2 separate regions of the Homo sapiens genome follow, and region 1 is linked to region 2. The links come from fine-mapping of genetic effects on gene expression. A gene starts in region 2. The other region holds a variant in brackets. All regions are shown on one strand. Distances are from middle to middle.

The links. PIP is the estimated chance that this variant, and not a neighbour inherited with it, causes the effect.
Region 1: its variant is fine-mapped to the expression of EBF3 in spleen (GTEx, PIP above 0.99). The same link has a PIP of 0.9 or more in cerebellar hemisphere, liver, ovary and testis.

The regions. Positions count from the first base shown.
Region 1 is chr10:129,789,786-129,795,157 of GRCh38, reverse strand. It overlaps LOC107984281 (a long non-coding RNA gene), which reads right to left. Exons shown (of 11, transcript NR_186705.1): 3 at 3,124-3,249. Among named protein-coding and RNA genes, the nearest start is that of MIR4297, 51 kb to the left of the region's middle. The variant A/T (reference allele first, on the strand shown) is at 3,122.
Region 2 is chr10:129,961,544-129,966,915 of GRCh38, reverse strand. It overlaps EBF3 (EBF transcription factor 3), which reads left to right and starts at 2,642. Exons shown (of 17, transcript NM_001375380.1): 1 at 2,642-3,281; 2 at 3,393-3,549; 3 at 3,911-3,974; 4 at 4,690-4,745. The coding sequence starts at 3,148. RefSeq lists enhancers at 1-508, 1,544-2,515.

The DNA.
Region 1 (5,372 bases), 170 kb after region 2:
TGCAAACAAGACAGCCCAAATAGTGCACTTAGGAGCTGCAGGCTTTGGGGTAGGGAGGCAGAGACGCGGCTGGGCAGTAGGAAGCCAGCAGGGACGGTGGGCCAGGTCTCCTTGCTTCTGCAGTCACCCAGGGAAGATCCTTGTGCTCAGGGGGGATTTGGCTTTGGTGCCCAGGAAAGGACTGGAGCCTCATCCCCTCACACACTGACTCCCTCCCCTGGTCTGCACCATCTCCCACAACAGGATGGGAGGTTGCATGGAGCATAATGTCAGCACTGGCCCCTCTGCCCGGGGTCCCTCACGTGCTCATTCTGGCTCCAAATGGAGGCTGTGTGCGAGTTACGGAACTCACGCAGCCTCTGCTCGCAATTTCCACCAGGAAGAGCTGCTCCTTTTTCACTTTTAAACCCCAAGTAGGGCTAAAGAGCTCTCAGCCGCTCCCTTCTAGAGGGCCCGGGAATGGCCAGCCAGGAACGCGGCTCTCCCGCGGCCACGGGAATGCCTGCTCTCTAGTGTCCCGACGAGCCCACAGGCAGGCCCCAGGAACAAAGAATGAAATGGCCCCAAAGAGCAAGAGTTACATTTCATGCTTAAAATCAAGGCCATCCCATGAGGAGCCAACCACGGAGACTCTTGATTGATGGCGGAGAATAATTATTCTCAGTGTTGCTGCGAGCTTGCCTTCGTAGAAAGCCAGAGATGAATAAAATATATGAGAGCATATCAAAATATAGTGCAAGGACAACATATACAAACAGTACGTTAAGCATTATGGAAGACAATAAACGGAGCTGGAAAACACATCCGAGTTAGCGCTGGGCCCGGAATCCGTGTGCATCTGCGCGAATGGGAAGCAGCGCCGCAGACGTCTCTGTGTGGCCCCTTCGGTCCTGGGAATACTTCATTAGTTGGAAAATCTGAGCAGATTAATTTCTACCGCCGCCTCCTTCCTGAAGGACAGGTTCCTGGGTGCACAGCGCGGCTGCGGCTGCTCCTCTGCCGCCAGGCCCCGGGCTTCCCTCCACACGCAGAGTGCAGTGTCAACAGAAATGCTACAGTGACATTTCTCTCTCTCTCAATTACTTGTAGGCTTTTCACTGCCTGTATAAAATACATATTGTGCTCCAGCGAGATCCATTGTACCGAGGTCAGCGGGAACTCATTGTCCTTTTTAGCTTCAGAACAAGACAATACTGACATCTGTAAGATTTGCTGTAAATAATCCAAGTGGTATAGGTACCGGGTCAGGGGCAGGAGAGGGTAAAAAAGAAAGGAGGAGGGAAGGAAAAGAGGAAGGAAGAGGGAGGGGGTGAGGTGGGGTGAGGTGGGGAGAAGGGGAGAGGGGAGAGGGAAGAGGGAGGCAGAAAGGTGTTGTGAAATTTACTGAATGCTAAATCATTCCGCATCCTGAATTGGTCATGGGAAGGCTTCACCAAATCGTTTGCATCATTTCAGGGAAAAATAAATATTTGGCAAATACCTACAGGACAGCATCGGCTTGCATGCCTACTGCAGATGGCCTTTGCTCCCAGGGCAGGATTTATCCTGCAAACCATCGCACCAGAGAGCCCTAGGTGCAGGGGCTGTGCCCAGCCCTCCAGCAGAGCCACACATGTGGAGCTCCGGTGCATGGCCTCGAATTCTAATTGGGATGGCAGAAGTCTATGATTCTGATTAAGTGCAACGGAGTCATTTACTTGACAGTTCAAATCAATAAGTTAAAATGGGGTGGGGGTGGGGGAACAACCTGCACAGTCAAAGATTCGAGAAGCAGAAAGGCCTACTGGGTGCCGGCTTTGCCCTGAACCGCCTGCCTTTTAAGTCGGTGTGTGAGAAAATCAAAAGCGTATTTGACAACCAGTCAGGGAGAAGCTCTTCTCCGAAGGAGAGATTTTTCATGGAAAAGAAAATTTGGCGACAGGCAGGGGACTGTGCCCGGGATGATAAATGAGGGAGAGAAATACTAATGGAGACTCCGTGCAGGCAGAAGTGAGACTCCTGGAAGCCCACTTGTCTTTTTCTTCTCTACCTGTGTAAGAGGCAGAGACCGTGCATGCATGTGCGAGTGTGCACGTGTAGGAGGGAGAGATGGAGCGTGTGTGCGTGAATGTGTAACAGGCTGAGACCAAGTGTGTGTGCATGTGTGTATGAGGCAGAGACCAAGTGTGTGTGTGTGAATGTGCATGCGTTGTGTTGGTGGGACACACAGTGTGTGCACATGTGTGCATGTGTGTGCCTGTCCCAACACACTTCTCCAGTCCCTGGTTTGAGACCCTGTCCGGGGGTGGATAGAGAGAGAGCTGCTGATGAACTTGGCTTCCAGTACAAATGCGGCTGCTTCTCTGGGTGGGAGGCGATCGCCACACTTCCTCAGTCATGGACAGTGCTGATTTTGAGGCTGGCCCAGCAATAAATTCATTTCCACTCGGGACTTTTACCCTTAAAGACAAAATCTCTTCAGCCTGTACCTTTTCCCTTCGGTCATATCCAGAAAAGTGAGCATGTGATTTCAATTTGAAATTAAAAGTCATGTCTGAATAACAGAACTGCATTCTCATTTCCTAATACCCTGGTTTTTACTACTTTGCATTCAACTGTGAAAAGTCTTTTAAAACTCGGAACAGCAGTAAAACTTGAATGAATTTTTGACCCATTATTGCATAGCGGGTGCGCCTTCCAAGTTGGAGAGACTGCCAAGTTCTCACCACCTAATATTTCCACTTTAATTGTGCCACTTGAGAAATTTACGTGCCTCAAAATATGGCATGAATCTTACGCTTATTGCAGTATCATTAGCAGCAACATTTAAGCAACATCTGTGTGCCATAGAACTAATTGAAGTAGCAGAAGTGGCAGCTGTAAATCCACAGGAAGATGGCAGTTTGTACCCAGCACTGCTGAGCTAGCTCCTAACTGTCAGCCTGTTCCTGCAATCTGCTCTCGAGTGCGGCAGTACAGGCACACAATGTCCAAAAAAATACAGCGAGTAGGCTAATGATCCTATTAACCACTTTGCTGCACCAATTTGGCTGTTTTTCCAGTTTCCTTGTTGAATTTCATTATAAGTTTTGCCATTCCTGTAAAAAGTCCAGTATGAGACATGTCTGACTTTAAACTACTT[A/T]CCTGAGCCGAGAAACACTCGTCTGGCCAGGCCAAACTGAGGATTGATTTTTTTTTTATTATTTAATAATTCTTCCCACCACACCCCGGCTCCTTTCAATTGCTTAAAATTTTTTCACACACACATTTCTGTAAAACAAAAGAAAACAAAGCATTTAAATCTCTTGTAATGTTGATATTTAAAGAAATGGCATTTTCTTCCCATGGACATAACATTTTCAGTAATCAATACAAGATGGCAGCCCTAATTTATTATTGGTGGGGAGTGGAGGAAGAGGGCAGAGATGGTGAGGATCTCCCAGAGTCTGCTGAGGTATAGATGCGGTCAGCTTATCTGAGAGCCTGTGTCATCCCTCCACTACACAGTGGTTTGGACCCAAAATGCATTGACTGTTTTTCTTCAATGTGAAGAAAAATGAGGCTGATTCTCCCGCACAGAGTGCAAGCTAAGTTGGGAGCAAGGAAAGACCCTGGTGCCTCTTGTTGCAGAGAAACGAGGACTTAGGAGCCCCTGCTTTCCTTCCGAATATCCCCCCATTAAGCACAACTGGAAAAAACATTTCCAACACCTCCAAGAAAACCCAGCCCCATTTTGGTTTTAACTCTGCTTTTGCTTGTGTTTGTCTTGGCAGGGGACGGATGTTTCTCCCTTGGTGCCTGGCCCTCAGACAATGATGTAACTGGTATCTTTCGAAGCACTCAAGAGTGCTGGAAATACACAAAAGAAGACCTCCTTCAATATATGATGACTGGTGTGTTTGCCAACAACCCAACTTCATTAGAAAATTGGCACGTCCACCCAGCTGCCATGTGACACGCCGTTAACTCCGGACATTTGTTGTCTTAATGCTCAAGTACTCAGGGACTCAACTGATAAGGGAGAAACTGTTTGGAATCCACTGAACCCCACGCCTAGGGTGGCCGCCACCTCATGGTATTGAAAATCAATAGCCACATGACTGCTGAAAGGTTGGAGGCCTCCAGAATTAACTTCCTAGTACTAAATTACCATCCCTTCTTTCTTGGTTTATTTTCTAACAATAATACATTTTAAGGGCGCCTGGTTAAAAACCACTTACGAAACACACAACGAAGAAAACTGAATCACTGGCGAACAGCTGCCAGTTCCTCCCCCCAGCCCAGCGAACATGAGGATGAACGATGCTGACAGCTCCCTCGGCCTGCAGCCTGGGTTTGTTTCTTCAAAAAAATCTCGTTCTTTTTTGGTGGTGGTGTTTTAATCTTTATGGAAAAGGGTAAGCTTGTTTAGAAGCGATCCATCTCTGACTTACCAAATAATGCAGCTTAGTAATAAGTTGGGCACCACCACTGCCCTGGGATGCTGTCTCAAATGCCACATCACAGAAGGGAGACTCGGGAGAAGGGGAGGCTTGTGGCATTTCACTGTAGTTGAGAAATAAGCTCCCGTGGCTAACGATGTGGCATCATTTATTTAAGTTTTGAATTTCAATAGCTTTTGGGGTACAAGTGGTTTTTGGTTTCATGGATGAATTACAGAGCGGTGAATTCTGAGATTTTATTGCACCCATCACCCGAGTGGTGTCCGTTGTACCTAATGTGTAGTTTTTTCTTTTTTTTTTTTTCATCCCTAGCCTGCTTCCCACCCTCCCGCTTCTGAGTCTCTAAAGTCCGTATCACTCTGTATGCCTTTGTGGATTCATAGCTTAGCTCCCACTTATAAGCGAGAATGTATGGTTTTTAGTTTTCACTCCTGGGTTACTTCACTTAGAATAATGGCTTCCAGCTCCACCCAAGTTGCTGCAAAATACATTATTTCATTCCTTTTAACGGCTCAGTAGTATTCCATGGTGTATAGACACCACATTTTCCTTATCCACTTATTGGTTGATGGGCACTTAGGTTGGTTCCACATCTTTGCAATTGTGAATTGCACTGCTATAAACATATGTGTGCAAGTGTCTTTTTCATATAATGACTTCTTTTCCTTTGGGTTGATACCCAGGAGTGGGATTGCTGGATCGAATGGTAGATCTGCTTTTAGTTCTGTAGGGAATCTCCATACTGTTTTCCATAGTGGTTGTACTAATTGACCTTCCCACCAGCAGTGTAGAAGCATTCCCTTTCCCCACCCACACCAACAGCTTTTGTTTTTTAAACTTTAATAATGCCCATACTTGCGGGGTTAGGTGGTATCTCGTGGTTTTAATGTGCATTTCCCTGATGACTAGTGACGCTGAGCATTTTTTCATAGTTTTTTGGCCATTTGTGTA
Region 2 (5,372 bases):
CCCTGGCCTGGCTGCGGTGTCCCTTGCTCCCCTCTGCTGCTGCTCCTGCCCCATCAAGTCGAAAATCTGAGGGTGGGATGGGGTGGGGGACCAGGGGGTACCCTCCCAGGCCGCTCCGCAGCAGGCCGAGGTGGAGACCCTGCCCGGTAGGCGAGTCCTTGTGCCCACAGCTCGGAGCCAGCAGCGGAGTGACAAAAAAGATAAAGTTGGTGAATGATAAAGACCGTATTTTCCACGCTTTGGGTGCGGGACCAGATGATCTAGAAAATGAGCTGAAATGGATTCAGCCTCCGAGCCTGTTGTGAGAGCAGCTGATTCCCCCATTTCGGGCCAGATGGCTGCTGAACACAGATTTGCATTCATTTTCGCTTAATATCGTCCAAAATAGTGGGGCAGCTGCATTTGTTGTCAAAAAGGTTTAAAACCCCTTTTCTTTCTGGGGCAGGATCGTTACCTTATGTGATGGGCTTATAGAACTTTTTTTTCCTCTTTAGTCAACAGTATCAGATTTAGAAGGATTTGTTTTTAAACCTTCTAATTTGGTAATCAGATTTAAATCGCCTTGGCGCGTGTAATCTGAATTAAAGATACTGTAAATGATTTTAAGCATGATACTTTCGTTAGCGCAAGGAAGGGGCACCTCTAGCACAGGCTGGACATTTTAGGAAGTGTGCTATAAAGGAAGCATTGTTTCCTATTTCCAACTTCATCTTTCCCGAAAAGGCACTTTGCATATTCTGACAATAACGCTTGCCTGGCCGCTTGCCCTGCGTGAGCCCCCGAAGCAGCTAAACACGCAGAGACAAAGCGTTTCTCAACCCCACCCTCCCTCGATGGCCAACTTTATTTTGCGTTGTTTCTCCACGAAGAAAGTGTTCCCTCCTACACCAGTGTCTGCCGAGAGTGGAAAGCGCTGGGCTTATTAGGAATACAGAAATTTTCTTTTAATTTATCATGAACAGTTTCCATACACTTTGATTTAAGGTTATTAACATTCTATAGACAGTGGCATCTTTAATATGTGGCTATCGCTTCTAAAGACTAATCTCATTACCCTCAAATAGTCATAAAATATGATTTTATTATACTTACGTATTTAATTAGACGGCCGGCACCGTAATGGATTTTGAGATGGGACTGGCGCAACAGCTTTGATAATTCACTTATCTTTGGCAATAGTCATTAACCCCCAACACCAGCAAAATAGATCTCTTTCCAACACATCTTTTTTCTCACTCCTTCCAAGAGGCGTGGGGGTCCCCAGACAACGTGAATCGGACTTCGACTTTCCCGATTAATTAAAATATTAACGTACACACGCTGCCAATTCACGGGAAAAGGGAGTGCTGCCCCAGACCCGGCGGGAGGAGGCTGCCCTGCAACACACTTGCGCCCTGCAATCTTTTTTTTTTTTTTCTTTTAATCAAAAGGGCCTGATTTCTCTTGGCAGGGAAGTGCCTAGGACAGTTCCTGGTCGTCCCCTGGGTCTCTGCTCCGTGTCGCGCAGACGTCCTTTGGGCGGGCCGCGCTCCTGGGCGCGGAGTCCCGGCTACAGGAGCTGGGCCGCGGGGCCCACAGTCTGCCCGCGCCCGGCTGCCCTCCCGATTCCTAGAAACCAGGTCGGGAAGCCGCGCGCCGCGCGCTCACCCGGGTCCGGCGGCTCCGAGGGCCGGGCCACAGCGCCCGCGGCGTCCGCTTGGTTTTTGGAGCAGTTGGCTCCAGGGCGGTCTGGCCACCGCGCAGGTCGCGCAGCCAGACACCCGGCTCCGGGTCGCCGGAGAGGCCGGGCGCGCTTCCCGTCGGCCCGGAGAGACCGGAGCCTTCTTTGTCACTCGCTGTGCGTAAGAACAGGCCAGGGGCCGGGGTCTGCCGCGGCCACCGGGGGAGAGGGAGCATCTGGCAGACCCTGCCTCCGACGTGATTCCCTGCCCGGCACTCGGCGGCCTCCGCCGGGGTAGGAAGCTTGGGGTACCTGGCGGGGCTCAGACCGGGACCGGCCGGCCCTGCAGCAGCCTTAGGTCTGCTTAGAAATCAGGCTGAGCTGCGCGTCCAGCCTTGGCCGGGGAGCCCTGGGCACCCCTCCTCCCAGTCCGTTGCCCGCTCCTCCCTCCGGCGCCCTCCCTGCGGTCGACCTGCCTCTTCCCACTTCTCCTTCGGGCGGCCCCAGGACAAGCTGCAGCCCCTTGCATTTATTGCATGCATCTGGGCAACTTGGGGCGCCTCAGCATTTTACAGCCCCCCGCCCCGCCCATCGTGTTCGACTGTGTGGCAGGTTTTGCAGGGAGGTATTAAGGGGCCAAACTGCAATTGTGCAGTGGCTGCGTTTGTTTCTTTTCAAGATTTATTTGGGCGAGTAGTAACTTCCTTGGCCGCGGCTGGACGCGAGGAGCCGCGGTGCGTGGCGGGGGGCGGCGGCGGCGCTCGGTGGCGCTCGGCGGCGGCGGGGCTCGCGGGGCTCGCGGGGCTCGGGCCGGCTCGCGGCGCCGTCAGGCAGTCAGTCGGCGAGCGCGGCGGCGGCGGCGGCGAGGGGCGCGGCGAGGGGCGGCCGCTCCCATATATGGCGCAGGCACCGCCCCCCGACGTCACCCTCTGACAGCGCCGCTCCCGGGGGCTTCGAGTTTTGGCTCCCGGGAAAGGGTCCATTCCTCGGGGAGAGAGGGCTGAGTTTTGTGCGCCTCCGTCCGCTGCGCGCGCCGCTCCAGGCCCCGCCGCGCCCCGCCTGCGCCCGGGACTGCGCCGCAGCACTCACTGCCCCGTTTATTTGTCTTTGGAGCAGGCGGGCCGCGCCAGAAGCGGGCGATCCCGCAGTGTCCTGCAGCCGCGGACGCCGCCTGGCTAGGATGACACCACGTTGAGCGCGCCTGCAAACAACAACAACAACAAGCGCCGCCGCGGCCACCGCGTCCTGCTCCTTCGAAGCGCCGCCGCCGCCGGTGGAGCCGCCTCCGCGCCCCTGGCCGTCCGGAGCGCCCGGCCGCTGGTGTATGTCGCGCCTGCCCGGGACGGGCTGAAGCCGGCGGCGGGGCCGGACCGCAGGCGCCGAGCAGGGCGAGGGCGGCCAGGGCAGCCGCCTGCCGCCAAGCCCCGAGCGCCGCTGCTCGAGGAAACGCTTTCGGCCGGGAGCTGCGGCCGCCGCCAGCAGTTTTCATGTTTGGGATTCAGGAGAATATTCCGCGCGGGGGGACGACCATGAAGGAGGAGCCGCTGGGCAGCGGCATGAACCCGGTGCGCTCGTGGATGCACACGGCGGGCGTGGTGGACGCCAACACGGCCGCCCAGAGGTACGTACCGGCCGCCCCCGCGCGCCCTGGCCCCGGCCCCGGCCCGGCCCGGCCCCCTCCGCCGGCCGGCGCCGCGCTCCTCACCGGGCCGCTGTCTCTTTCCTCCCGCAGCGGCGTGGGGCTGGCGCGGGCGCACTTCGAGAAGCAGCCGCCTTCCAACCTCCGGAAATCCAATTTCTTCCACTTCGTGCTGGCGCTCTACGATAGGCAGGGGCAGCCGGTGGAGATTGAAAGGACCGCTTTTGTGGACTTTGTGGAGAAAGAGAAAGTAAGTGCAAACACACGATCACACCCTCTCTCTTTCTAGAAGCGGGAGGCAGGCGGTGCCGGTGCGCGGGGGTTCGAGTGCCCCCCTAGGCGGCGGGCTCGGCTCCGCCAGGCCACCCCGCCGCCGCCACGTGCGGCCGCCCGGGACCGCCGAGGGCTGGGCAACTTCTCTGCGCCCTCGGACTTACTCGGGGCGAGGAGAACGCTGGGCTTCCAGCAGGAAAGTGACATCACCGCGCTGCTTCGAGCTAGGAATCCTGCCATGTGTGAGGCCGAGAGCCTCGGTCGCGGAGGGGGACCGAGCGTGGTGGCCGCGCCTGACACCGATCGCACTAAATGCAATTATTTATCGTTACTTTCAGGAGCCAAACAACGAGAAAACCAACAACGGCATCCACTATAAACTCCAGTTATTGTACAGCAACGGTAAGTGCCTGCTGCGTGCTCGCCGCCCCTGCAGCGGCTGGCTCTCCTTTTCTGCGCTGGTGAAAGGACATAAAGATTTGAGATTAAAATGACATGGATGTAAACACGAAATCTTCTCATGGCATAGAAGGAAAACAAAACATAAACGATCAATAAGTCGATGGCACTTCACATGATTAACCGGTGGGGCTTGAAGTAGAAAGTAAGAAAAAGATCGATACGGGCTCCAGCAGAACATCACTTTTAAGTGACTTTTTTCAATTTTGCAAATTAATGTTAATTATTAGGATGGGGGTAACTCCATAAACGGAGCATAACTTACTTCCTGTGAACGAGTTTTTTTTTTTTAAATCCTCGAGAGACATTAGAAAGAGTTCAGCCTCTCACTCAGTTTCCATTTGGTGCTTTTTCTTTTCTAAAAATAAACGACCACATGGGCCCACCGCACACAGCTACCAGGCCTGCTCTCCACCAGGCAAGTTCCTTGCACCTTGAAATGCAAGCCCTAAGAGCCTTAAGGTTCTTAGTTAAGAAAAGAAAAAAAAAATTAAGCGAGAAGTGGTGGGGTTCTCTTTCTCCCTTTCAAAGGGATTGCCTAAGTTCTGCTGCATCACCGTGGCAGCAGTCCTGAGTTACAGACTTCCTGTGCTCCGTGTGCCCTCCCCGAGGTGCAGCACTCAAATCCTGATGAGAATTTGTCTCTGTTTTTTTGCAGGAGTCAGAACAGAGCAAGATCTGTATGTTCGCCTCATAGATTCAATGACCAAACAGGTGAGAAAGTTTATGCCTCTGCACGAGTTTTCACTGCTGGGCCTGGGTTGTCCTGGGCTTCAGAGGCAAGGGCACTGACAAATGGATCTCGTGTATTTGTTTTCCATTGAGTTTCCTTGACATGCTAATGAGAATTCCATATTTATTGGAATGAATGAAGCGATTGGTAAAATAGTTTATGTTGTCATTAGAACAGGACATATATGCTTTATTAAATGTCTTGTGATTGGAATCATATTCTGTCTTAATTAATTATGGTAATTAATATTTGACAAAAATTTCAAGATGTCCCCCCTCTTGTTTATTTTTAAATGCTTCTCTCTCTGCTAGGAATCAGTTCATTTGGATTTTTTTTCCTATAACAAAGGCAGCTAACTCCTAAGCCCATCGAGTTGGACTTGATTAGTTCATTTTTTTTCTCCTTTCCAGTGTGATGGTCTAGTAACACGAGACGTTTATTTGGATTTAAAAGTTAAATGTGTTGGGGTGAAAAGTCACCTTGTTCTCCTCTAGTCCATCTTCACCTCGCAGCCCCCCAGCTCCATAATTCAAACTCCAAGCTCCAGGGGTCACTCCAACCCGTCCACTGCTCTGCCCCCTCTCCCACCCTCTGTCATACCTTGTAAA